3 separate regions of the Homo sapiens genome follow, and regions 1 and 2 are each linked to region 3. The links come from fine-mapping of genetic effects on gene expression. A gene starts in region 3. Each other region holds a variant in brackets. All regions are shown on one strand. Distances are between the middles of the regions.

Region 1 (8,180 bases), 38 kb before region 3:
CTCCCAGGCCATCTACTTTGACCCCTTTGAATAGCCATATGCCATATTTGCTGCACCTTCTAGCTTCTGGACAGGCCTCCTTGTTCTAAGAATTTGGCATTTAGTGGTGTCAGCAGTTCTGAGTATAGAGAGGTAGAATAGTCCCAAGCCATGGCACAGCTTTCACTGTGTGACACATTCTCCTTTTCCAGGCTTTGAGCTACACCCTGTCCAGCTGTTCTGTACAACCCTTTCCCCTTTTCTCCCTTCCTGATTGTGAGCATGCTGATGGGTGGGCATGATGCCTCTTGCCCTGCACAGGTGGAGCCCCTGTTGTTGCTGAAGGCAGCCCGCATTCTGCAGACCTGCCAGCGCTCGCCTCACATTCTCGCTGGCTGCATCCTCTATAAAGGACTGTGAGTAACTCCAGACCCCTTTCTTCCAGCCCCATTCCCTTGCTGCACAACTGACCATCAGCCACCTCCAGATCACAGTGGGGAGCCCAGTCTCTGGCCAGTTCCAAGTGGGCTGGTTCGGCAAATATCAGGTAGTTTAGATTTGACTCAGTTTAGAAAGACAGGTGTGTACCTGTCTTTGAGCAAAGCTGAGAAATTGGAAATAGTTGTGTTCAGAAAAGAGTTAAGAATGTCCCTATAATTCTCAGTATGGGGCATGCTGGAATAGTTGTCAGTCTGCAAAATGCTAATGCAGAGTCCCGAGCGTTGCCAGCAGCCAGCACTGTAGTCAAGAGGCATGGAAGGGGCCTGCTGTGACCCTCCTCCTGCTGCCCAGAGACCCTGGTGTGCTTGCCTCAGCTCAGCTCTGCAAAGCAGCCTTACAGGCCCTTATCCAGCTGCCTTCAAGCCTCTTGGCTGGGCCAGTGTCTTGGTTGGCCTCTGAGAATTCACTTCACTTCTTCATGTAGTTGGAGGGCTTCTTGGTGAATCTGAGTGCCCAAGAGCCACTCTAGGTCATCTAAGGCCTCTCTCCTCATGGAGGGTTTGCTGTCACAGCCCAGGGCAGGCAGGGCCATTGCGCTGTGCCCGGAGCTTCCTGAGGAGCAGGCAACTACTGTGTAAATGGAGAAGCACTGAGGCTCTCGCAGGGGCCCTTGGGCCAGACAGGCTCGGCCCCAGATCCTCCCTTCTTTCGCCAGCCATGCGGCCTTGGGCAAGTTGCTTAGCCTCAATTTTCTCTTCTGGGAAATAGACATCCCTTGTGAAGAATGAAATGAGATGACAGATGCGGAAGAACCGAGCATAGACCCTGGTGGGCTTTGCACTCTTCTTCCTTGCCCCGGTTCTTATCATGATGGTTCTGAATCAGCTGTGGGATTTCCAAGTTCGTCAGTGACATACCCACCAAAGACAGTATTTTTTTTCCCCTTTTCTCATTTTGCATTTCTTAAATGTATATATATATATTTTTTTTTCTTTTTTTTTTTTTTGTAGGGACGAGGTCTTGCTATGTTGCCCAGGCTGGTCTCAAACACCTGGCTTCAAGCGATCCTCAGCTTCCCAAACTGCTTGGATTATAGACATAAGCCACTGCACCCAGCCTGTATTTACATTATACGGCTAATACATGAATACATTTTCACTGTAAACAAATCAATCAATAGAGGAACACACAGAGCACAATTTAAAAGCCCCCCTTCTTTCTTCACCATTTTTGTTTGTTTGTTTTTGAGACACAGTCTTGCTTTGTTGCCCAGGCTGTAGTGTAGTGGCATAAACACAGCTTACTACAGCCTCGACCTCTTGGACTCAAGTGATCCTCCCACGTAGCTGGAACAACAAGCACTTGCTACCACACCTGGCCAAGCTTTTGATTTTTTTTTTTTTTTTTTTTGTAGAGATGGGATCTCACTATGTTGCTCATGGAGGTCTCAAACTCCTAAGCTCAAGTTATTCTCCCACCTCAGCCTCCCAAAGTGCTGTGATTGCAGGAGTAAGCCACTGTGCCCAGCCTCTCCCTCACTCTTAACCTGTCCTCACCATTGGCAGTTTGGTGGGCATCTTGCTCTTTCTGTGTGTTTGTCCCCACTGGTACATGTATGCATATATTGCTTTTGTTTATTTTTGCTATCTCCTTAAATAGGATCACATGGTTTCTCAACGCATACAGTGAAGATTTCCTTACCGGTTCATATGGGTCTACCTCATTCTTATGAGGACTGCATACTTTTTGGGATTCTGGCTGTGTTGTGCTTTACTGTCTTGTTGATGAACATTTTGGTGGTTTACTCATTTTTTAATTGTTTTTACCATTCTCCCTGTAATGAATATTCTTACGCATACATCTTGGTACAAGCTGAGTCAAAGGGTTTGGATATTTTAAATGTTGGTAGGAACTGCCAGAGTGCCCTCTGTAAGGGTTTTACCAGTTGAAACTCCCACCAGCCAAGTCCCCAAGATCCTCGTCAACACGGGCTGTTAGGCATCTTTAAAATTTGGAGTGTTTTGGTGTATTTCGTCTCATGGTGTTCTTGTTCTGTGTGTGACCTCCTAGGATTGTCAGCACCCAACTCCCGCCCTCCCTCACCGCCAAGGTCCTGCTTCACCGAACAGCACCTCAGGAGCAGGTATTGTAAAGTCCACCCACCTGGCTGGACAGCATCCCCCAGAGCACTGGTCACTGAGCCTGAGGCTGGAGGGATCAGGAGCAGAGGCCGTGGAGCAGTTGTTTCACTTGGTCTTGTCAGGACCCCAAGTCCTCCAATGTCATTCTCCTCAGTAGTGAAGCCATTGGTGAGGCTGAAAGAAAATGTTTTCTTCCACGAGCTAGGCCTGGATAGTTGTTTTTTCTTCAAACCAAGGAAATCTTGGTTGAATTCGACTTCCCATAAGAATTTGATGTCTCTTTATGTCAAAGAGATGTTAGACTTTTCAGAGACAGACTGTAAAGGATGTGTCTTTAGAAAGATTTAGGGGGTTGGGCACGGTGGTTCACACCTGTAATCCCAGCACTTTGGGTGGCTGAGGTGGGCAGATCACTTGAGGTGAGGAGTTCAAGACCAGCCTGGCCAACATGATGAAACCCATCTCTATTTAAAATACAAAAATTAGCTGGGTGTGGTGGTGCACACCTGTAAATCCCAGCTACTTGGGAGGCTGAGGCAGGAGAATCGCTTGAACCTGGCAGGCAGAGGTTGAGGTGAGCTGAGATCGCGCCACTGCACTCCAGCCTGGGTAGCAAGAGTGAGACTCTGTCTCAAAAAATAAAAATAAAAATAAAAAAATAAGGAAAACAAACTCTTCTAAAATACTTCCATTTTATATTTATTTAATTGTTTTTATATTGAAAAAAAAGCCATGCATGCTCATTGAGAATAAAATTGCCCATCTTTGAACTGTACAGGGATAGCCACTGCCAGCATCTGGCATATCTCCTTCCAGTCCTTTTTTTGTTTTGTGTATGAAGCTGTGGTTTCCAGCGTATCATGAGGCTGTCTTTTTACA[T/C]GTATTAGTGAACAGGCATGTAAAATGCTGGTAGGGCTCTATTCAGCCTCCTCAGCCACTGTGGCTATGGGTGTCAATTCAAGTAGCCTTTCTGGGAAACACTTTGATAATGAGAACGTTAAGGATGCCCTTTATTTTTTTCCTAATAATTTGACTTCTAGGAATATATCTTAAGGAAATAATGTAACTGCTGAAAAAAATTTATACTCAAAACTTGATCACAACAAGCTTTATGAAAGTGAAAAATCAGACAAAACTTGAATGCTTAAAGTAGGAGGTGGCAAATTATGGCCTGTGGGCCACCTGCCTACAAATGAAGTTTTATTTGGCTGCTTTTGAGCTATAATAGCAGAACCAAGTAGGTGGGACAGAGACCATATGCCCTGCAAAGCCAAAAATATTTACTGTCTTGTCTTTTGCACAGAAAGTTTACTAATTACTGGTCTAAGGTAGGTAAATGATTAATTTACTCATATCACTTAAACCTTCATAAAATTTTAATCAGCCGTTTAAAATGGCCAAAGATGTTTTAGTGGCAGGAAATGCGTGTTACTGTTTTAAGCAGAAATATGAAATTTTATATAGTGTGGCCTCAAAAGTATAAAAACTGCATAGGCTTAAGGAAAAAATACCCAATATTAATAGTACTAGCTTGGGGATGAGGGATTGTATGTGATTTTTTTTTTCAACGCTTTGTCTAGAGTAAATTGAGGTTAGGCTTAGTAATCTAAAACATAGTTTTTTAAAAATCACCAAAAAAGGAAGAACACCATATCATTCTAAGATTGAAAGTCATTTTGGCTAGAAGAGCAGTTCTTGTTTGGTTTGGTTTTGTTTTGGTGGGTTCTTTTGGAACCCTCAGATTGAAACGAGAGATGTTTTCATTTTTGAGAAAATCATCAGGTTTTAGGCCCTGATTGTGAACCAGAACAAACGAGAGATTGGGTATAGCATTTTGTTTAAGTCAAATCCTTTATCGTGAGAGTCACAGTATTTTGACATTTTTATTATAATGGAATTTATGTGAATTCTACATCAGGGCTGTGGCAGATGTGACTGTATTCTAGAATATGAGTTCCCCAAAGGTGTAAAAGAGAACAGGAATCCTCAATTTTATTCCCAGAAGGGAGAGAGACTGAGAAAATCAGAACGTAGAGTGTGATGTGAGTTTGGGTGGAGCTGCTGCCTTGCAGCCTGTGTGGGCCCAGGTTCTTGCTTCATCCCAGCCATAGTGGGAGCCAGCAGCTTGGGGGAGCTTCTGTTCCATCTGCTTGGCTCTTAGCATGTGGTTGGGACAAGCTTTCTGGGCCTGGCTAAGTTTTATGAACAGATGGCACAGCAAATTCCTGATGGTTAGGTCAAGAGGAGAATGTGGTGCCCAGCGCCAACTTCTGTGTGTGTTTGTTTTCAGAGACTCCCTACGGGAGAGGATGCCCCGCAGGAACATGGTAAGTAGTGAGGCGCATGGTTGCCTCTTGAGAACGGCGGTCTTTTATGCTACCTACCCCTGTACAAGTTATGCGAAGGAAACCAAGCCATCTGCATGTTTATTTCCTCTGCTCATAATAGGAAAATGGATGTTATGGAGCTTCAAGAATCGAGTTACCCACCAGAACCCTAATGGTAAAGCTATGATTTTAGGCATGCTGTCAAATCCCTGCTTTCAGACCCTCCTTAACTTCATATTGTGAGACTGCTCGGTCAAGTGCCAGGAGATTGTGATTGGGAGAGGGTAAGGCAAACAGCGACTGCCAGAAAGACCTTTTGCAGGATGTGGAGGCGTCCTCAGGAGAGTTATTTCGATTTATTCTGAAGCCTGAGTTGGAGCAGATCCCTTTCTTAGCTTATATCTTCTTCTTGTAAAAGTGCTTTTCAACCTTTCTCTCCCGAACATCTTCCTTCTCCAAAGCTGGGAGTCATGTTGCCTGCAGGGACTCTTTCCTTACTGGGCCCAGGAGTTCGAGGTGCAGTTTGGCAACCTGTGTCCTGGCTGAGGAATGCACTCACAGCACCCCTTTCCGAGCCCACGTGTGGGTTGGATGCATCACGCCAGTGCAGCTATTGCCCCGCTGCCCTCTCTGGCTCAGGGGAAAGTCCTGTTCATATTGCTTTGCAATTCCAGGAGCGGCATTGCCCCCGAATGTCCAGATTATCCCTGTTTTTGTGACCAAAGAGGAAGCCATTAGTCTCCACGAGTTCCCGGTGGAACAGATGACAAGGTAATGGAGTGCACAGAGAGTTAACCTTGCACCACACCTGAGGGACCCCATCGCGTGATTGGTTAAAAAACAAACCTCTGATACATCCCATCGTTCCTTAATTCCATCTTCCCCATGCCCTGTCTTGTAAAGGAGCATCTGAATCTTGAGTTTGTTAAGAAACAGAGTGGCATAGAGAGATGACATTGGCTTTCATATCCCAGCTCTCTTACTTATACCAGCTATGGGACCTTGGGCAAGTCCATTCCCTGCCTGAGCCTCAGTTTTTTCATCTGAAAAGTAGACAAAATAGTATCCCTTTCATGAGTTCATTGTGACACTTGAAAATAGTATAGGTACAGCACCTAGTATAGGGCCTGATGCGTAGGAGACCTTCCAGATGTGGGTCAGTCTTATTCAGTGGGCTCTGCCATTTTCAGTAGGTGAGTCTGGTGTCACTACGTAAAGCCCCAAGGGCCAGATGTTGGTGTATTTTTACTCTTGTGATTTAACTCTGGTGGCCTCTTAGGCTCTGTGGCCTCAGGCACCCCCTTGTCCTTGATGCCTGTGCTTTAGTCTTCACTGTGGAAGGGCACTTGCCCTGCAGTCTGTCAACGTGCCCCTTCCTTACATCTCTCTTGTTTGCCAGGTCTCTAGCATCTCCAGCAGGACTCCAGGATGGTTCAGCCCAGCACCATCCAAAGGGTGGGAGCACATCTGCCCTGAAAGAAAACGCCACTGGCCATGTGGAATCCATGGCCTGGACCACCCCAGATCCCACATCCCCTGACGAAGCTTGTCCAGATGGCAGGAAGGAGAACGGATGCTTGTCTGGCCATGATCTGGAGAGCATCAGGCCCGCAGGACTGCACAACTCTGCCAGGGGTGAGGTTCTTGGCCTCAGCTCCTCCCTGGGGAAGGAACTAGTCTTTCTCCAAGAAGAACTCGACTTGTCTGAAATCCACATTCCAGAGGCTCAGGAAGTGGAAATGGCCTCAGGTCATTTTGCCTTCCTACATGTGCCTGTTCCAGATGGCAGGGCTCCTTACTGCAAGGCATCTCTCAGCGCCTCCAGCAGCCTGGAACCCACGCCTCCTGAGGACACAGCCATCAGCAGCTTGCGCCCTCCCTCTGCTCCTGAGATGCTGACCCAGCATGGAGCCCAAGAGCAGCTCGAAGACCATCCTGGCCATAGCAGCCAAGCCCCCATTCCCAGAGCAGACCCTCTCCCCAGAAGGACCCGCAGGCCCTTGTTATTGCCTCGCTTAGATCCAGGACAGAGAGGAAACAAGCTTCCCACGGGGGAACAAGGCCTGGATGAGGATGTTGATGGGGTCTGTGAAAGCCACGCAGCCCCTGGTCTGGAATGCAGTTCAGGCTCAGCAAACTGTCAGGGTGCTGGCCCCTCTGCAGATGGAATCAGCTCCAGGCTGACACCAGCAGAGTCCTGCATGGGGCTCGTGAGGATGAATCTCTACACTCACTGCGTCAAAGGGCTGGTGCTGTCCCTGCTGGCTGAGGAGCCGCTGCTGGGAGACAGCGCAGCCATAGAGGAAGTGGTGAGTGTCCTCAGACCTTCTCCTGCCCCTCTGCGGCCTCTGCCGATCTCCTGTGCTTCCCTCACAGCACTGTGCCAACACCCAGGGAAGAGATAAAGGCTCAGCCCTCAGTTGTGTGACCCTGGGCAAGACGTTCTTGTTTAGACGATGGAGGTATTACCTGCCTCTGTGGGTTTTTGTGGGGGGTAAGAGTGAGTCAAGCGCATAGCACTGGTGGTGCATTGGCATCCAACAAGTGTTGGTTCTCTTCTTCCGCTGTTTCTAGTTTTGCAGAGCGCAGGCCTTGGAGAAAGGGAAGGCCTGAGATGGAATCCTGGCCCTTGTCCTCTAGCTGTGTGAACTTGCCCACAGACCTTTGTCCCCTTGAGCCTTGGCTAACTCCTCAGTCACGTAGGGATGGTGGTAGACCTTCCTGTTCCAGATGCAGTGAGATAATGCAGGCAGAGACTGCACACGTACGTGCATGTGTTGTGCCGCCCCTGCTCATGGCCTCATTTCCTAGCCTGGACAGCTCTAGGTTCTGTGTCAGCTGGAAACTCCTCCGCAGTGTGTCACAGCCTGGGTTGGGAGTTCCCTAGAAACCCAGTGTTTCCCTCCATAGCCCCAGCATCGTACCTGATCTGAAGCTCCTTCCTAGAAGGCTGGGATGTCTGAAATCCTGCCTGGCTCTGGAGGGCTCTTAAACTATTGCAGCCCCTTCCCCGCTTAGAGGCTTAGAGTGGTAAACTGACCTTCCCTGGGGCCCACGCTGGAGATTCGTTGCTATAGTAACAGCCTTGCTTTAGTAGGCAGGGAAAGTGGTAGCAGTAAGAACAGCAGGTTGAAATTGCTGCAGGGCAAATGGTGTCTTGGGGCTTTCCTTGTTTTTATTCTTAAATGTGTATTATTCTAAGCTGATCTTACTATCATGCAGGGCTTGTGACCCTCCATAAATGAGCTAGTCACCTTGAAATACAGAAGAAGAGATAAGACTGCACAGCAGC
Region 2 (8,180 bases), 170 kb before region 3:
TCCCTGCGTCGCCTGCGTGACAAGCAGTGGCACCTCGAGGGGTCCTTCCCTGTCCTGGCCACAGAGCCCCCCAAGTGAGTCCACACCTCACTCTGCTACCTTGCCCCAACCCTTCTTCATGTTCAATTATTTCCCCCATTTTTCCCAGGCAAATAAAATTCCCTAAAGCCAAAATTTCTCCTGGATCTGTAAACAGATGTGTGCCTTGAGGTCCCCCATAGTTACTGGGATGTGACTTCCTCGCTCTTAATAATTACAACGATAATAAAAGCAGCAAACACTGAAAAGTTCTTTCTGCCTGTTATGTGAGTCTACCAAATGTGTAGGCAGAAATGAATAAGGCCAAGTTCCTGCCGTCAAGGAGTTTGCTCCACCTAGCAGGGGAAACCCAGATACACCTGTGAGATGCTGTCCAAGGATACTAGGTAAGAGATGGTCCAGCCAGGGCATTCGTGCAGCAGGTCAGAGGAGGCAGGTTGGTTTCTGGGTCCTGAATGGATGTGTTGGGGTGGAGGACAAGTACTTGGCCTTACTCATTATGAAGACTGCTCCAGGAGGTTGGTATGAGGAAATTGAGGTTCAGAGAGGGGAAGTGATTTTCCCAAGGTCACACAGTTAGCAAGTCAAGACTTGAATTCAGGCTGTCTGGCTCCAGAGCCTGTACTCTTCAAGACAAATCTATAAATTTTTTTCAAACTGTAGCCAGTTGAGCATCCCCCCTCAGGATTTTTTGCACTGTCTGCATGCCACCTGGTCTACTTTTGACATATTTTTATTTAAATAGACTTATTTTTTGTCCTTAAATGCACTGATTTGTAAATAAATCCTTATAATGCTCCAAGAAGTGGAAAATCAGCATCATATACATAGAAAGCAATCACACAGGCTGGGCGTGGTGGCTCACCCCTGTAATCCCAACACTTTGGGAGGCTGAGGTGGGTAGATCACTTGAAGTCAGGAGTTGGAGACCAGCCTGGCCAACATCGCGAAACCCCATCTCTACAAAAATTCCAAAAGTTAACCCAGCATGGTGGCGTGCGCCTGTAATCCCAGCTATTCGGGAGACTGAGGTGGCAGGATCACTTGAGGCTTTAGCCTGGGAATTTGAGGCTACAGTGAGTCGTGATCATGCCACTGGACTCCAGCCTGGGCAACAGAGTGAGATCCTGTCAAAGAAAGAAAGAGAGAGAGAGCGAGAAAGAGAAAGAGAGAAGGAAGGAAAGGAGAGAGAGAGAAAGGAAGGAAGGAAGCAGGCAGTCGTATAAATAAATCAAATACAATTTAAAGAAGGCCAAGTATCAAATTTCCAGCAGATACCACTGCCTGCAACCTGTTCACTCTTCGACAAAATGGGAGATTAGCCAGTGTTGAAAAGTGTGAAAGAGGACCGGGTGCGGTGGCTCACGCCTGTAATCCCAGCACTTCGGGAGGCCGAGGCAGGCAGATCACTTGAGGTCAGGAGTTCGAGACCAGCCTGGCCAACATGGTGAAACCCCGTCTCTACAAAAATATAAAAAATTAGCCGGCTGTGGTGGCGGGTGCCTGTAATCCCAGCTACTTGGGAGGCTGAGGCAGGAAAATCGCTTGAACCGGGAGGCAGAGGTTGCAGTGAGCCAAGATTGCGCCACTGTACTCCAGCCTGGGTGACAGAGTGAGACTCCACCTCAAAAAAAAAGAAGAAAAAAAACCAACAAAACAAAGAAAAGTGTGAAAGATGTTTGCACCAAACTGAGACTTTTTTCCTCCTTGATTTAATCAATAAAGGTTGAAAAGAGCATCGTTTTCTTGTATCTGATTCAGTGTTACTCAATCCTGGAGCTGGGGTACATCAGGAATCATCTCATTTGGAAATCTGTGCCAGACACTATTGTTTCCCATATCAACAGTTAATATTGATTGATGTTATTAATCATTAATCTATGCAGACAGCCTGGTGGAACGGGGTGTCGGGGTTGCTATGGATATCTTCCTGGAGGAGGGAATATCTGAAGGGGGCCTTGAAAGATGGAGCAGGAGCTTGCTTGATGGAGAATAGGGGAGATGATATTCCAGGCAGAGCAAACAGCAGTGTCCCCGCTACCCCATATGGCACCTTTGTGCAAATGATAAAAAGATGTCTCTTCCTCAAGACATTTTACTGCCATCTGTTAGAAATTATTGGTATAAATCTGGGACGTCTACCATGTAAATGTGATACCCTTGTGCTGTGCCCAACATGCTCAGCTGAACTTGGCAGCCCTGGAGCACCATGAACAAAGGCATAGAGGTTGAGAGAGTTGTGGTGGGCCCCGGTGAAGCTTATTGAGGTGGGAACATTAGCTTGGTGGTTGTGTGGGCAGAAGCACAGGGTGGGACGGATACACTTGTACGTCAGGAGATAAAGCTGGCAAGAAAGATAGGGCCTCATGACACCCCACCCTGTGGTTTTGCTGAGCTTCAAAGTTGAGACACCACCTCACATAATCTTGGACAGGTCTCACTCACCTTCCCTCATCTCACTTTCATTCTCCCCACCTCAACACTCTTGGCCAGCATCTTGGACTAGAAGACAGGGCTGTCTGCGGACCAGGATTCCTGGACAGAAATCGGGAATAAAAGGGTATTAACCCTGCTGTACTGTTAGAAGTTGGAAAGAACTAGGCAAATTGCATCCATTCCCTGGGACTTGTTTTTCTCTTCTATAAAACGACAGCTCAAATACCCATCCAGCCCCAAGATTCTGAGGTTCCAAAGTTCTATGACTCTCTAAGGTTCTGATATTTATCTCTAAGCTTCTGTGATTCTCTGATTCCAAAGCCAAGCCACATGGATCCCCATTCTAAGTTCTTAAGGTCTGTGAGTAAAGCTCTAAAATTCTACTGCAGTGGAGTCCATCTTCACAGTCATATGAGCCCCCTGAAATTGACTTCCATAGTTCTTTACCTTCAAGGTCTTATTGTTGGTAAGATGCACTATGATTTTATAATTCCAGGAGGAAAAAGAGAAATAATACCAATCAAAACATAACACAATTGTTTTCTGATCACTCAGAATTTTTATACTTATTGAAAGAATTATTTTCAACTTATTTAGATTTAACAGATTTTTTTTCAGTGTATCAATCTGATAAGTCCTATAAAAGGTAAACATACTAGAAATTCATCAGTTAAGTCAGTTCTAAAACCTCTTT[G/A]CGGCCAGGCACAGTGGTTCATGCCTGTAATCCCAGCACTTTGGGAGTCTGAGGCAGGTGGATCACTTAAGGTCAGGAGTTTGAGACCAGCCTGGTCAACATGGTGAAGCCCCATCTCTATTAAAAATATAAAAAATTAGCCGGACATGGTGGTGCACACCTGTAATCCCAGCTGCTCTGGAGGCTGAGGCAGCAGAATAGCTTGAACCCAGGAGGTGGAGGTTGCAGTGAGATCGTGCCACTGCATGTCAGCTTGGGCGACAGAACAAGCTTCCATCTCAAAAATAAAATAAAATAAAAACTCTTTGCATTGATGGTCCAGATTCTGGCCTGGCACAGTGGCTTATACCTATAATCCCAGTATTTTGGAAGGCTAAGGTGGGAGGATCACTTGAGCCCAGGAATTTGAGATCAGCCTGGGCAAGATGGTGAGACCTTACCTCTACAAAAAATAAAAAATAAGCTGGGTGCAGTGGTGCATGCCTGTAGTCCCAGCTACTGTGGAGGCTGAGGCAGGAGGATCCCTTGAGCCCAGGAGTTCCAGGCAGCAGTAAGCTATGAATGTGCCACTGCACTCCAGTCTGGGGAACAGAGCAAGACCCTGTCTCTAAAAACAAAAACAAGGCCATACATGGTGGCTCACGCCTGCAATCCCAGCACTTTGGGAGGCTGAGGTGGGAGGATCACTTGAGCCCAGGAGTTTGAGACCAGCCTGGGCAACACAGGGAGACCCCATCTCTACAAAAAATTAAAAACAAAACACAGAGTCCAGGTCTTCTGGATCACTTTCATCTCACAGGCATTTTTTTTTTTTTTTTTGAGACGGAGTTTTGCTCTTGTTGTCCAGGCTGGAGTGCAATGGCCCGATCTTGGCTCACTGCAACCTCCGCCTCCCAGGTTCAAGCGATTTTCCTGCCTCAGCCTCCCGAGTAGCTGGGATTATAGGCATGCGCCACCATGCCTGGCTAATTTTTTGTATTTTTAGTAGAGACGGGGGTTTTTCCATGTTGGTCAGGCTGGTCTCGAACTCCCAACCTTACTTGATCCTCCTGCCTCGGCCTCCCAAAGTGCTGGGATTACAGGCGTAAGCCACTGCGCCTGGCCTCACAGGCATTTTAAAATGTGCATATTAGCATCACTGAAACAAGATATGTACACTTGGCAGAATAAACACCAGAAGAAAATAACAATTAAAGTCATTTTATATTTAATGTATTGTTTGCTAATGAATTTATGAATAAACAAAATGCCTTGTAATAACAAAGGAGGACATATAAAATTATAAGCAAAAAATAAAGAATAGAGACTAAAAGAAGCAAGTTAAAGAAAATAACATGTAGTAAGGCTGAGAGTGAGTGTGACTTAGGAACCATAAACCTGGTGTTCCTTCCATGGGTCCTAGTTTCAACATATCTCTCAAAACATGAGCATCTCACCACCTGGAGCAGAATTTCAGAGCTTAAAGATAAGCCACACTTTTGCCTTCAAACTAAAACTAAGGTTTCATTTCATCAGGTGCTCAACCCCAGAAATCATGATGAGTCCAAGTTTAATATTGACGGAAACCAGTGAAGCTGGACTTCCAAGGGGCTATGTTGCCTTCAGCCTTTTCGGGGGCTTCTCCAAGGCAATTTTGACTGCATGGGTTTGGCTCTAAATGCTGGCTTTTTGTTTGTTTGTTTTGGTTTTTGTTTTTTGTTTTTTGTTTTAGCTAGAGTCTCACTCTATCGCCCAGGCTGGAGTGCAGTGGCGCAATCTCAGCCCACCACAACCTCCACCTCCCGGGTTCAAGCAGGAGTGTCCCTAAGCACTGGCTTTAAAATACAATGCCTGAGGAAACTGGGGACTTCATATTGTTTCAAAGCTAGATAGATCCCAGCTTGTGAATCTTTGAGTCTCAGGCCTTTGGAAAGGCAAAGCATCTTGATTATGAGAGAGCGGCTCTCATTCTCATCGACAAGAGGCAACCCGTAATCTTTTAGACATTGGAGCATAAGCCCAACGCCGGCAGTGTGTATATGTGGGGTGGAGGCAGGAGGATCACCCAGAGGCATTGAATGCTTTTGTGCCAGCATGAGATGCTGATAAATACACAGCAACTGGGCTCTGGGGAAAAGACATGGTTCCAGGGTGCCCTGCAGAGGTTCTAAAGAGATGAGCCTTCTTAGAGCCAAACTGCCACGACAGCCAATAGCCTGGGTCAGATACTTAGGATCAACGAATGCTTTGTGAAGCCTGGATCCCCAGCTAGGAACAATAATACTACACCCTTCCAGCAGGAGAAGAAAACCTGCCCACTTACTTTTACTTCCTGCCCACTGCCGAGCCACTGCCTTCTATCAGTGTACTAGAAAGGGTGAGAGAGACCTGAGTTTGCATTCCAGCTCTGACAATTACCAGCTATTATCCTTGGCCAAATCAAATTACCTGCTGGAGCCTCTGTTTCCACATCTGTAAAATGGGAGTAATGATAATAAAACACCAAAAGCTTGGAGAGGGTAAATGATCAGCTTGAATATAATAATTATAAGGTGTTTAGCACATAGCAAGCACCTGAATAAAGTGTTTTCTGTGGTTGGGCATGGTGGCTCACACTTGTAATCCCAGCACTTTGGGAGTCCAAGACAGGTGGATCACTTGAGGTCAGGAGTTGGAGACGAGCCTGGCCAACATGAAGAAATCCCATCTCTACTCCAAATACAAAAATTAGCCAGGCATATTGGCGCATGCTTGTAATCCCAGATACTCAATAGGCTGAAGCAGGAGGACTGCTTGGACCCAGGAGGCGGAGGTTGCAGTGAGCCGAGATCACACCACTGTACTCCAGCCTGGGCAACAGAGTGAGACTCTGTCTCAAAGAAATAAATAAATAAAATAAAAATAAATAAAATGGTTTTTAAAAAAATTTTAATTAAAAAAAAAAAGTAGAGACAAGGTCTCACCATGTTGCCCAGGCTGGTCTCAATCTCCTGGGTTCAAGCTATCCTCCCTCTTCAGCCTCCCACAGTGCTGGAATTACAGGAGTGAGCCATTGAGCCTGGCCTAAAGTGTAATTATTGACATAACATCAACCTCATCCTCTTGAATGTCAGAGCTGGAAAGAATTTTTGGATCAATGTGTATTATGCTACATCTATTCTTCCTGCTTTTGATAAATATTCTTCCTGCTTTTGATAAAACCTCTTAAGTACTGGGTTTTGCCTAGATGCTGGGAAGATAGGTTGGGGAGGAAGACAGAAGAGGTATCTGCTCTAGGTGTTCCCGGCTGAAGATGCAGACAGGAGGAATGAATTATTTTGTCTGCCTTCAAAGTCACATCAAATTCCTGGGCTGCACAGTCTGGTGTCTGGTCCACCACGATGTCCTGAGGGGCAATTAGCCTTCCTCAAGGAGGTGACAGACAGATTGAGACCTGGAAAGGTTCACTGAGCTAGGGGTACTGAGAGAAGTCCCAACCTAGACAACAAGACGATCATTCTGATCCTCCTCCTTAGCCTCTCAACTGAGATCTGCCAATTCTGTCTTCCAAACCTCTCCGGAACCAAAACACCCCCTCCATGCCCACATCCCCTCTCTGGGTTCCTGAATTATTTCAACACCCTCCAAACCAGTTTCTGCCTGTTTCTTCTTCACACAGCACCAGAGGGATCTTTGCAGAAAGTCAGGCTCCCCATGCCCTTCCCCTGTTGAACACCTTCCCTGTCTCTCCATCACTGCAAGAGAAAAGCCCCGACTCCTTCCCACAGCCCACAAAGCTCTGCAGCATCCAGCCCTGCAGACACCTCTGATCTCTTCTCTCACCTCCACCACATCCTGTCCACTCTGCACTTCATGCAAGGCCCCAGGCTCGCTTCCTTCCTGCTAGGCCTTTGCACCTGCTAGATTCTGTGACCAGTGCACTCTTCCAAGGATCCCCACCCATGCCTCTGGCATGTATACACACGCCTGGCCCTCCCTCCCTGGACCAGGTTAATCTCTGCTGCTCCTGCCTCATCAGTTACAGGTGCTCACTTTACTGTGAAGGCTTGTTGAAGGATCTAGCTTCCCCAACTTGGACCTTTGTCCCCCTGTTAGCTGCTGAATCTGTGCCTAGCATAGAGAGCTCAGGAAATGCCATTGCTAGAATGTTATTAAACAAATGCCCCCATTCACACCTCTTCCTCTGAACTCCATTTTTTTCATCCACAAAAGGACATTATAAAACACCCTGCTGGTGTTTAATCTATGTGTCTATCAAATCAGTCATATGAAGTCTCTAACATGCACGCAATAAACACTATGTAATGTTGTTGTATTGTTTCCAGACCAGTAATGGCTGGCTCCATGGAGGCAGCTTTATCAGTCCCAGCATTTTCCATAAGGCAAGCACTAACTATTTATTGGACACATGAATGAATTAATGAATGACCAATGAATGAACATGTGGCTGGCCATGGGCAAATTACTTAATATCTGTGTGCCCTAGTTTCTGTGTGTGTGTGTGTGTGTGTGTGTGTGTGTGTGTGTGTACTCACCCAGGATGGAGTGCAGTGGTGCGATCTACACTCACTGTAACCTCTGCCTCCTGGGTTCAAGCAATTCTCGTGCCTCAGCCTCCCAAGTAGGGGGAATTACAGGTGAGCAGCACCATGCCCTGCTCATTTTTTTTTTTTTTTTTTGAGACGGAGTCTCACTCTGTCGCCCAGGTGGGAGTGCAGTGGTGCGATCTTGGCTCACTGCAACCTCCACCTCCTGGGTTCAAGCGATTCTTCTGCCTCAGCCTCCTGAGTAGCTGGGACTACAGGCATGCACCACCATGCCCAGCTAATTTTTGTATTTTTAGTAGAAACAGGGTTTCACCATATTGGTCAGGCTGGTCTTGGATTCCTGACCTGGTGATCCACCCGCATCGGCCTCCCAAAGTGCTGGGATTGCATTTTTTTTTTTTTTTTTGAGACAGAGTCTCACTTGTTGCCCAGGCTGGAGTGCAGTGCAATCTCAGCTCACTGCAACCCTTGCCTCCCAGGTTCAA
Region 3 (8,145 bases):
TTCCCACAGCTGACAGCATCTCCAAAACAGCCAGAAGTGCTTTGCCACTTACCTAGCTGGGGGTTAGGGACAGAGCCCGGAACTCTCATTGTCCTAATAACCTAAAAGGGCCTGAATGTCATGCTGCCTAAGTCTCTCAAACCCCAGCCGTGTTTCCCAGCATTCTCCAAAACCTTTTGTTCATCCTGCTTCTTCTAATACAATGAGAACAGCCAGGTCTCTGCTTCTACAAGTCTGATACTCAGGGAGCACAATTTCAAATATCCCTTTTGTACTCTACCCTCTCACAGCTTAAAAAATGGAAAAGTTGTACCCTCCCTTTACCCAGGGACTGAAATTTGGCCTGAAAATTCTTGCAGCATCGTAGCAGAGAGAAGCCAGATTAGAGATGGGCCCAGTTGAGGATTCATCCCAACCTTGGGCAGATCGCTTTTCCTAAGCCTGTTTCTTTTCTTTTGAGACGGAGTTTCACTCTTATCGCCCAGGCTGGGGTGCAATGGTGCAATCTTGGCTCACCACAACCTCCACCTTCCAGGTTCAAGTGATTCTCCTATCTCAGCCTCCTGAGTAGCTGGGATTACAGGCATGCGCCATCACACCCAGCTAATTTTGTATTTTTAGTAGAGATGGGGTTTTTCCATGTTGGTCAGGCTGGTCTTGAAATCCCAATCTCAGGTGATCCGTCCACCTCAGCCTCCCAAAGTGTTGGGATTACAGGCGTGAGCCACTGCGCCTGGCTGCCTCAGTTTCTTTATCCATGAAATGGGGTTCGTGTTCATCTCACTGGATGAAGATGAATGATGGCGGATGGACAGCACTTACGACCACGTCATAATGAGCACCCAATATATGCAGGCGACGGCTAGGATGGGTGGCATCCCATAATGAGTAGCCAGCGTTCCAAAGGTGGGGCACGAGAGAAAGGTATAGCAAGACTCGGAATTCCAACAGTTAAAGGTAAATCCTGGACACTCTTGTTGCCTCATGTATTGAGTGGCTTTTTTGTCCCCAGACTTGCTAAGCTAAAAATGAAAGGGAAACCTTAGGTGCTCATTAACTGCCTACTTGCTTTTTCCCAGTTTCGGTTGAATAATCACTTGACTATAATGTTTAGTAAGTCAAAAACACACATGCTGAATATTCATGGAAATTTTTTATGTTTCTAGGAAAAATACAAGAGTGGGGAGGTTAGAAGCTAAGTTGTTTTTTGTTTTCTTTTGTTTTTTTTTTTTTTTCTTTCCCACACATTCTCAATTTCTTCTCAGATTCAGGAGAAGAGGAAAAGGCTATGACTCACTGGAGGTTAAGAAACCCCTTCAGCCCCCTGTTTCTCTCCTTGTTAGACCATAAACTGGCAGCTGTTACTCTTTAGGAAAAGGAAAGAAAATCCAGATGAAAGATGTTTTGTTTGCAAGCCATCTCCCAAACAGAACCTCAGAGTTCCTGAAATTCAGTGTGAAACAATCATCTATGTGACACCAAGCACTTTTACTAAAAGGATTTCCCCCATCACTGAGCTAAACCCCTACTGGAACTTTTCAACTGAGTCTGTCAGGAGGAAAGGTTTTTTTCTTAAATGTTCTAAGAGTGAGACGGTGATAATTTAACAAGCACCTGTAAAGTGTTAGTTCCCATCAGCCCTGCTGATCACTTAAGTCAAGCAAAATGCAGACACAGAAAACAGGGTGGATGATGGAGAAACCTCTCCACTGGACACCCCAGCCCTGTACTCTTCTCAGGAAAGCCTCCTTCTGTACTAAGCCAGCCATGAGCCCTCCCTAAGGCTGAGCTGTAAGCAAAAGAATGTAAAAGATTCTGAACCCCAGCTTCAGACCCTCCTCCCGAGATCATAAATAGCACTGAGAGCTCAAGTTAGGACTTTTCATACCTGTCAGTCACTTTTAGCCAAAATATGCCAACAGGCCCCTGCACCCGGAGGTGGATTTACAAGCTCAAAGCTGAACTATGACAATAAAAGAAACACATTTGCAGAGTGACTGGCAGTTTATTAAGCACTGCTTCAAACATTTGATCCTCACAGCTACCTAGTGACAACTCCCCATCTACCCAGTGGGGAGAGGAGAGACTCTCTCCCCCGACAGCTCCTTGCCCAGTGACCACAGTAGCTTCCAGCTTCCTTCGCACATCTGTTCATTGTCATCTGTGTTATTTCTGTCCTCATCAGGGATGGGGACATCTCATTGCAGCTCTGCACTTTAATAATAAGCAACCCCAGATCTTCCAGCTCAGTTGGCTCTGGGGAATTGAGTCCAAATCCATGGCCAGTTGGAGAGCAAGTCCAATCCAAGACAACTTCTCACACCATGAACACCTGGGAGAGCCGGTGTCAGGCCTGACCTGGTCAGCCTAGTTCAGATGTCCATTCCCAGAGGCTGCCTAATGCCAAAGAGTGTCTGCTCACCCTCAGGATGAGGCCAAGTCACCCTGGAAGCCCCCCAGTGAGCAGCACTGGGCAAGGTGTGTGATGCCTGTCACCCTCTCCACTCAGGAGCCAGAGAGATGCCGTGGGGCCAGCCCTTCCCGGTGCAGACCTGGGGACCTTCCCTCTCTTGGCCAGCTTCTCAGCACCCACCTGCCCTGGAGAGTGGGAAAGAGGGGAGGGCTGAAGATGGGTTAGCACAGATGGTGACCACCAGGAGGTCAGGGGAGGAGGGGGATGGGACGATGGAAAGGTGAGTGTTGCCCGGAAAAGTGGACGATCAGCTCAAGATTGTGGAAGGAGGTTTATGGCGCCTCATAATTCGTGGGACAGGGGAGGAGGGTCACCACGTGAAATATGGGAAGTGGGTGATGCTGAGGGCTGGGGGAGGGGACAGGAGGTGAGGAAAGAGGGGTCACAGGGGAGAAGGGAGATGGAGGAAGGGACCACGATGGGGCAGGGAAGAGGAGTAGGAGGAGGTCTAGGGAGGGTGATGCCCGGCTCCGAGGCGGCGGCGCTTAGCACGTACGAGCACTGGCCTCGGCCGGGCCGGGATGCGGGCGCCCGGGTCCCGGAGCATCCTCGGCGGGGGCGGCGGCGGCGGCGGCGCCGGTAAGGGAGGGCCGTGGGCCTGCAGCTGCCGGGCTCCCGCCTCCAACCCCTGTCCTGGGGTCGGCCCAGCCGCGCCGCCCTCCCGCCCCGGCAGCCCCCGGAGACGAAGCTTACCTGCGCCCGGGCGCGCGGACGGCTGCCGGGACCCAGGAGACGCCGCCGCCCGAGGGCGCGGACCCGCGGACGGCCCCTGCCCGGCGCCGCGGAGCCGCCGCCTGGCTGCTGCCCAGCCCACGCCGCGGGAGCCCGAGCCGGAGCCCGAGCCCGAGCCTAAGCCGCGCCGGTGCCCCTGCCGGTGCCGACGCCGCGCTGCGCTCCGCGGGGCCGCGAAGACCACAACTCCCACAATGCCGCGCGCGCTGGGCCGCCGGGGGAGGGGGTACGGGGGGGCGGGGCCTGCGGGGCGGGGCCGGGGACCCCCCTGCACCCGGCACCTGCGCTCGCAGTGCGGGAGGCGACCCGAGGCCGCGCCCGCCGCCGCTCCGGAGGGTCCTGGCAGTGCGCCCCGAGACGCAGCGCCCGCCCAGCCCGAGGTTGCGCGCAGGCGGCGACGGGCGTGCAGTCATTCATTAAGAAAGGCTCGCGTCGCTTCCTTCGCTCTTTCGTTTTTCGCTCTGTGTCTTTCTCAGTTCTCCCTCCCTCTGTCTCTCTGTTCCTCTCTGAGTCGCCCTCGTCTCCATTTCCTCCTTTTCATTCTCTTTCACTTCCCCCCCACCTCACTTCCTCTCGCCCTAACGCCTTCTTTCCTTTATTGATGGACTCAACACGGACTTCTGAGGCCCTCAGGCACTTGGAATGGAACCGCAAATCAAACCAGATTCTTAGTCTCATGGAAAACTCATTCGCTCAGTACAGTAATGATGGGCCAGCCTGGGTCCCCGTCCCTGCCAGCTGCGCTGAGCGTGCGCGGTGAGCGCTCAGGCCCGCCCTGCCCTCAGTGAGCCACCGTCTAGCGGGAGGGGACCCTCACCCCCGGGTAGGGTTTAGGAGGGGAAGTACAGGCAGGACGGTTGTCTGACCAGGGGACTGATGAGCTGCGAATGGAGGCCCCAAGGAGGCTGCTTGGAGGAGGTGACGTTTGAGCTAAGACCTGGGGGAGACTAACAGTGGCTACGGGATGTGTTAGGGGCGCCAGGGAAACTGCATGGGTGGGTTCTGGGAGCATAGAGTAGGATGGCCCGCCCACAATCCATCTGTCTCTGTCCCAGACCCACCTCTCTTGTGTCCCAGAATTTATCTCTAACATGGCCCAGAAGCCACCTCATGTCTGTCCCAGAATCCATTTCTCATCCCTATTCCAGAAGCCACCTTCACCCTGTTCCAGAACGTACCTCCTTCCTGTTCCAGAACCCACCTCCCTCCCTGTCCCAGGACCCACCTCCACCCTGTGCCAGAACTCACCTCCTTCCTGTTACAGAACCCACCTCCTCCCTCTTCCAGAACCCACCTCCTCCCTCTTCCAGAGCCCACCTCCTCCCTCTTCCAGAACCTACCTTCTTTCTGTCCCAGGACCCACTTCCACCCTGTCCCAGGACCCACCTCCTCCCTGTCCCAGGACCCACCTCCACCCTGTCCCAGAGCCCACCTCCTCCCTATTCCAGAAGCCACCTTCACCCTGTTCCAGAACATACCTCCTTCCTGTTCCAGAACCCACCTACTCCCTGTCCCAGGACCCACCTTCACCCTGTGCCAGAACCTACCTCCTTCCTGCTACAGAACCCACCTCCTCTCTCTTCTAGAACCCACCTCCTCCCTCTTCCAGAACCCACCTCCTCCCTCTTCCAGAACGCACCTCCTCCCTCTTCCAGAACGCACTTCCTCCCTGTCCCAGGACCCACCTCCTCCCTGTCCCAGGACCCACCTCCACCCTGTGCCAGAACCCACCTCCTCCCTGTTCCAGGACCCACCCCCTCTCTGTTCCAGAACTCACCTCCACCCTGTTCCAGAACTCACCTCCTCCCTGTCCCAGGACCCACCTCCTCCCTGTCCCAGGACCCACCTCCACCCTGTGCCAGAACCCACCTCCTCCCTGTTCCAGGACCCACCCCCTCTCTGTTCCAGAACTCACCTCCACCCTGTTCCAGAACTCACCTCCTCCCTGTCCCAGGACCCACCTCCTCCCTGTCCCAGGACCCACCTCCACCCTGTGCCAGAACCCACCTCCTCCCTGTTCCAGGACCCACCCCCTCTCTGTTCCAGAACTCACTTCCACCCTGTTCCAGAACTCACCTCCTCCCTGTTCCAAGACCCACCTCCACCCTGTCCCAGTACCCACCTCCTCCCTGTTCCAGAAGCCACCTTCACCCTGTTCCAGAATGTACCTCCTCCCTGTCCCAGAGCCCACCTCCACCATGTCCCAGAACCCACCTCTCATCTCTGTCCCAAAATCCACCTGGTCCCTGACCTAAGAATCTGCCTCTACTGTGATAGCCTAAAATCCACCTCCTCCCTGTTCCAGAACCCAGTTTGTCATGTCCCAGAACCCACTTCTTCCATGTCCCAGAGTACACCTCTCCCATGTCCCAGAATACACCTCTTCCATGTCTTAGACTCTTCTTCATCTCTGTCATTTCTCTCCTTTTCTCAACTCCAAAAGAGGAAGAATGTTTTTTCTCTTTTATTCTACTAAAATAAACCAAAACACTTGCATTGGGAAACCATAATATGCACAGATTTGCTCAAAGTGTGGATAATCAACACAGGCATCAGATTTAGAAACATTAAATGGGATGTCTGTCTTCACTGTCAGCCTAAGAGTGGTTGAGCCTGGGTGGGGTGGAGAAAATGGAGTGGGGGGTATTTGACTCATCTCACATTCAGAAAGTTGCTCAAACTTAGAATTCTCCAAAGGCAGTCATACATTCTATCACAGCATTATCCTGGCAGGTTTGAAAAAAAAAAGATATTTTTATATTGTAAATATGTGTTCCATTCCTGCACCATCTTATCTGTACTGTATTATGAATTAATATTGTCTATCAATCCTATAAGTGTCCTTGACCAGTGCAATTATATGATATCTGTAGACCACTGCTCTGCATTTGTTAGTATTTATTTGTTCAATGGCAATATTACTATACACGCAATTTTGTTAGCCCTGCTTACCATTTCTTCATCTTTTTAATTAGCTGGGAGTCTCAATAAATGGAAATGACCTGGGCCTCTGTCAACCCCTTGGAGACCCTACTAGGTGAATTCTGCAGAAAAGGATATCCATGCCTTTCAGAGGGGGATTTTGGGTGAGAGCTCCAGATAAATTGTTACTGTGCTCATGGAGAGGCGGAGAGGAGGACCAAGGGCATCTGAATTGCCTGCCTTCAGCTTGGCTGCCACCTGCATCCTCCTGCTCTCGCTGCCTTCTTTAGCGCAGTCATCCTACCCACTCCGAGACTACACAACCTATCATTACACCGTCTCATACACTCACGGGGTCCACTCAACTCCCTCCTCCTACAGATGGAAGCCCAGAGAGAAAACATGCCTTGCTCAATCAAGGTTGCAGCAAGTCAGTGGAAAATGTGCTTGCGGCCAGCCGTGGTGGCTCACATCTGTAATCCCAGCACTTTGGGAGGCCGAGGCCAGTGGATCACCTGAAGTCAGAAGTCCTAGACCATCCTGATCAACATGTTGAAACCCTGTCTCTACTAAAAGTACAAAAAGTTTTGTATTAATTTTTGTATTAATTAACTACAGGTGTGGTGGTGCACGCCTGTAGTCCCAGCTACTCTGGAGGCTGAGGCAGGAGAATTGCTTGAACCCAGGAGGCAGAGGTTGCAGTGAGCTGAGATTGCACTACTGCATTCCAGCCTGGGTAACAGAGCAAAACTCTCTGAAAGAAGAAAGAAAGAAAGAGAGAGGGAGGGAGGGAGAGAGGGAAGGAGGAAAGGAAGGAAGGAAAGAAAGAAGGGAGGGAGGGAGGGAGATGTGCTTGCTTGGTGCATTAAAGAAACTGGTATGATCACTTTGGAGAGCAGTTTGGTAGTATTCCTTAAAACAACAACAAATATGTATACACTGAAACCAACAATTTCGCTATGCTATATCTAACCTAGAGGGATTCTGGGATAGATGGAAGACTAGTTGTTTTTTCATATTACGTAATACTGTGAAGCTACTAAAAGCAGGAGCTAGATGTATATATAGCAACGTGGATAAAGCTCCTAGAAAAATAATAGGGTGAAAATTAAAAAAAAAGCAGAATTATGATTGTAGTATGATTTTATCTACATAACACGCACCTGTACACATGTGGGTATACACATGTATTTATATAAAAGCAGGGAAAGCACTAGAAGAACACACTAGTATGTTCTCCTATATAAAATGCAAAATAATTACGTTTGTAAATGCAGATAATATCCCTCAGAGGAAGCACACCAAATTCCTAAGAGTTGTAACTTCAGGGGGGACCAAGAAGGAACAAGGAATTGGGAGCAGTAGGCAAGGGAAACTCCAGCATTTTTTGTGATGTTTTAATTTAATATTTTCAAAGGTGTTTAAATACTCCGGAACAACATGCAGAAAGTTACTGGGACCGCGTCACTCTCCTATCCCTCAACCAGTTGGTTTTCTTTAGTGAAGACAGCCATTATAACAAATTTCTTATTCATCTTTTCAGGAATACGCTTTGCATTTGCAAATATTTGGAAATAGCTTAACTTTTAACTTTTAAAAAGTAAGTTTCACTTTTAACAAATAAGTATTAGTATGTTATTTGTGATATTAAAATGGTTTTTAAAGCCGGGCATGGTGGCTCACACCTGTAATCTCAGCTACTTGGGAGGCTGAGGTGGGAGGATTATTTGAGACCAGGATTTCAAGACCACCCTGGACAACATAATGAGAGCTTGTCTCAAAAAAATTTAAATAAAAGAAAAATTTTATTCACATTAAATATTATTTTTCAAGAATGTAGAATTGTTCAACATCAGAAAGTATTTTAATAGAATTCATTCTGTTAACAAAGTAAAGGAGAAGAATGACACCATGATCTCAACAGATGCAGAAAAAGCATTTGACAGAAGTCAAACATCCATTTATGATTAAAACTCCTAGAAAACTGGGAATATAAGAAAATTTTAGGCCGGGCACGG

The links. PIP is the estimated chance that this variant, and not a neighbour inherited with it, causes the effect.
Region 1: its variant is fine-mapped to the expression of ASPHD2 in whole blood (INTERVAL, PIP above 0.99).
Region 2: its variant is fine-mapped to the expression of ASPHD2 in whole blood (INTERVAL, PIP above 0.99).

The regions. Positions count from the first base shown.
Region 1 is chr22:26,462,934-26,471,113 of GRCh38, reverse strand. It overlaps HPS4 (HPS4 biogenesis of lysosomal organelles complex 3 subunit 2), which reads left to right. Exons shown (of 14, transcript NM_022081.6): 7 at 301-395; 8 at 2,491-2,563; 9 at 4,852-4,888; 10 at 5,563-5,659; 11 at 6,288-7,197. Among named protein-coding and RNA genes, the nearest start is that of HPS4, 17 kb to the left of the region's middle. RefSeq lists an enhancer at 1-154. The variant T/C (reference allele first, on the strand shown) is at 3,441.
Region 2 is chr22:26,591,388-26,599,567 of GRCh38, reverse strand. CRYBB1 (crystallin beta B1) reads left to right here. Exons shown (of 6, transcript NM_001887.4): 6 at 1-290. The coding sequence ends at 78. It also overlaps a transcript of CRYBA4 not described here. Among named protein-coding and RNA genes, the nearest start is that of TPST2, 5.3 kb to the right of the region's middle. RefSeq lists an enhancer at 6,636-6,785. The variant G/A (reference allele first, on the strand shown) is at 3,170.
Region 3 is chr22:26,424,508-26,432,652 of GRCh38, reverse strand. ASPHD2 (aspartate beta-hydroxylase domain containing 2) reads right to left here and starts at 3,393. Exons shown (of 4, transcript NM_020437.5): 1 at 3,167-3,393. RefSeq lists silencers at 1,216-1,510, 3,243-3,302, 3,423-3,552.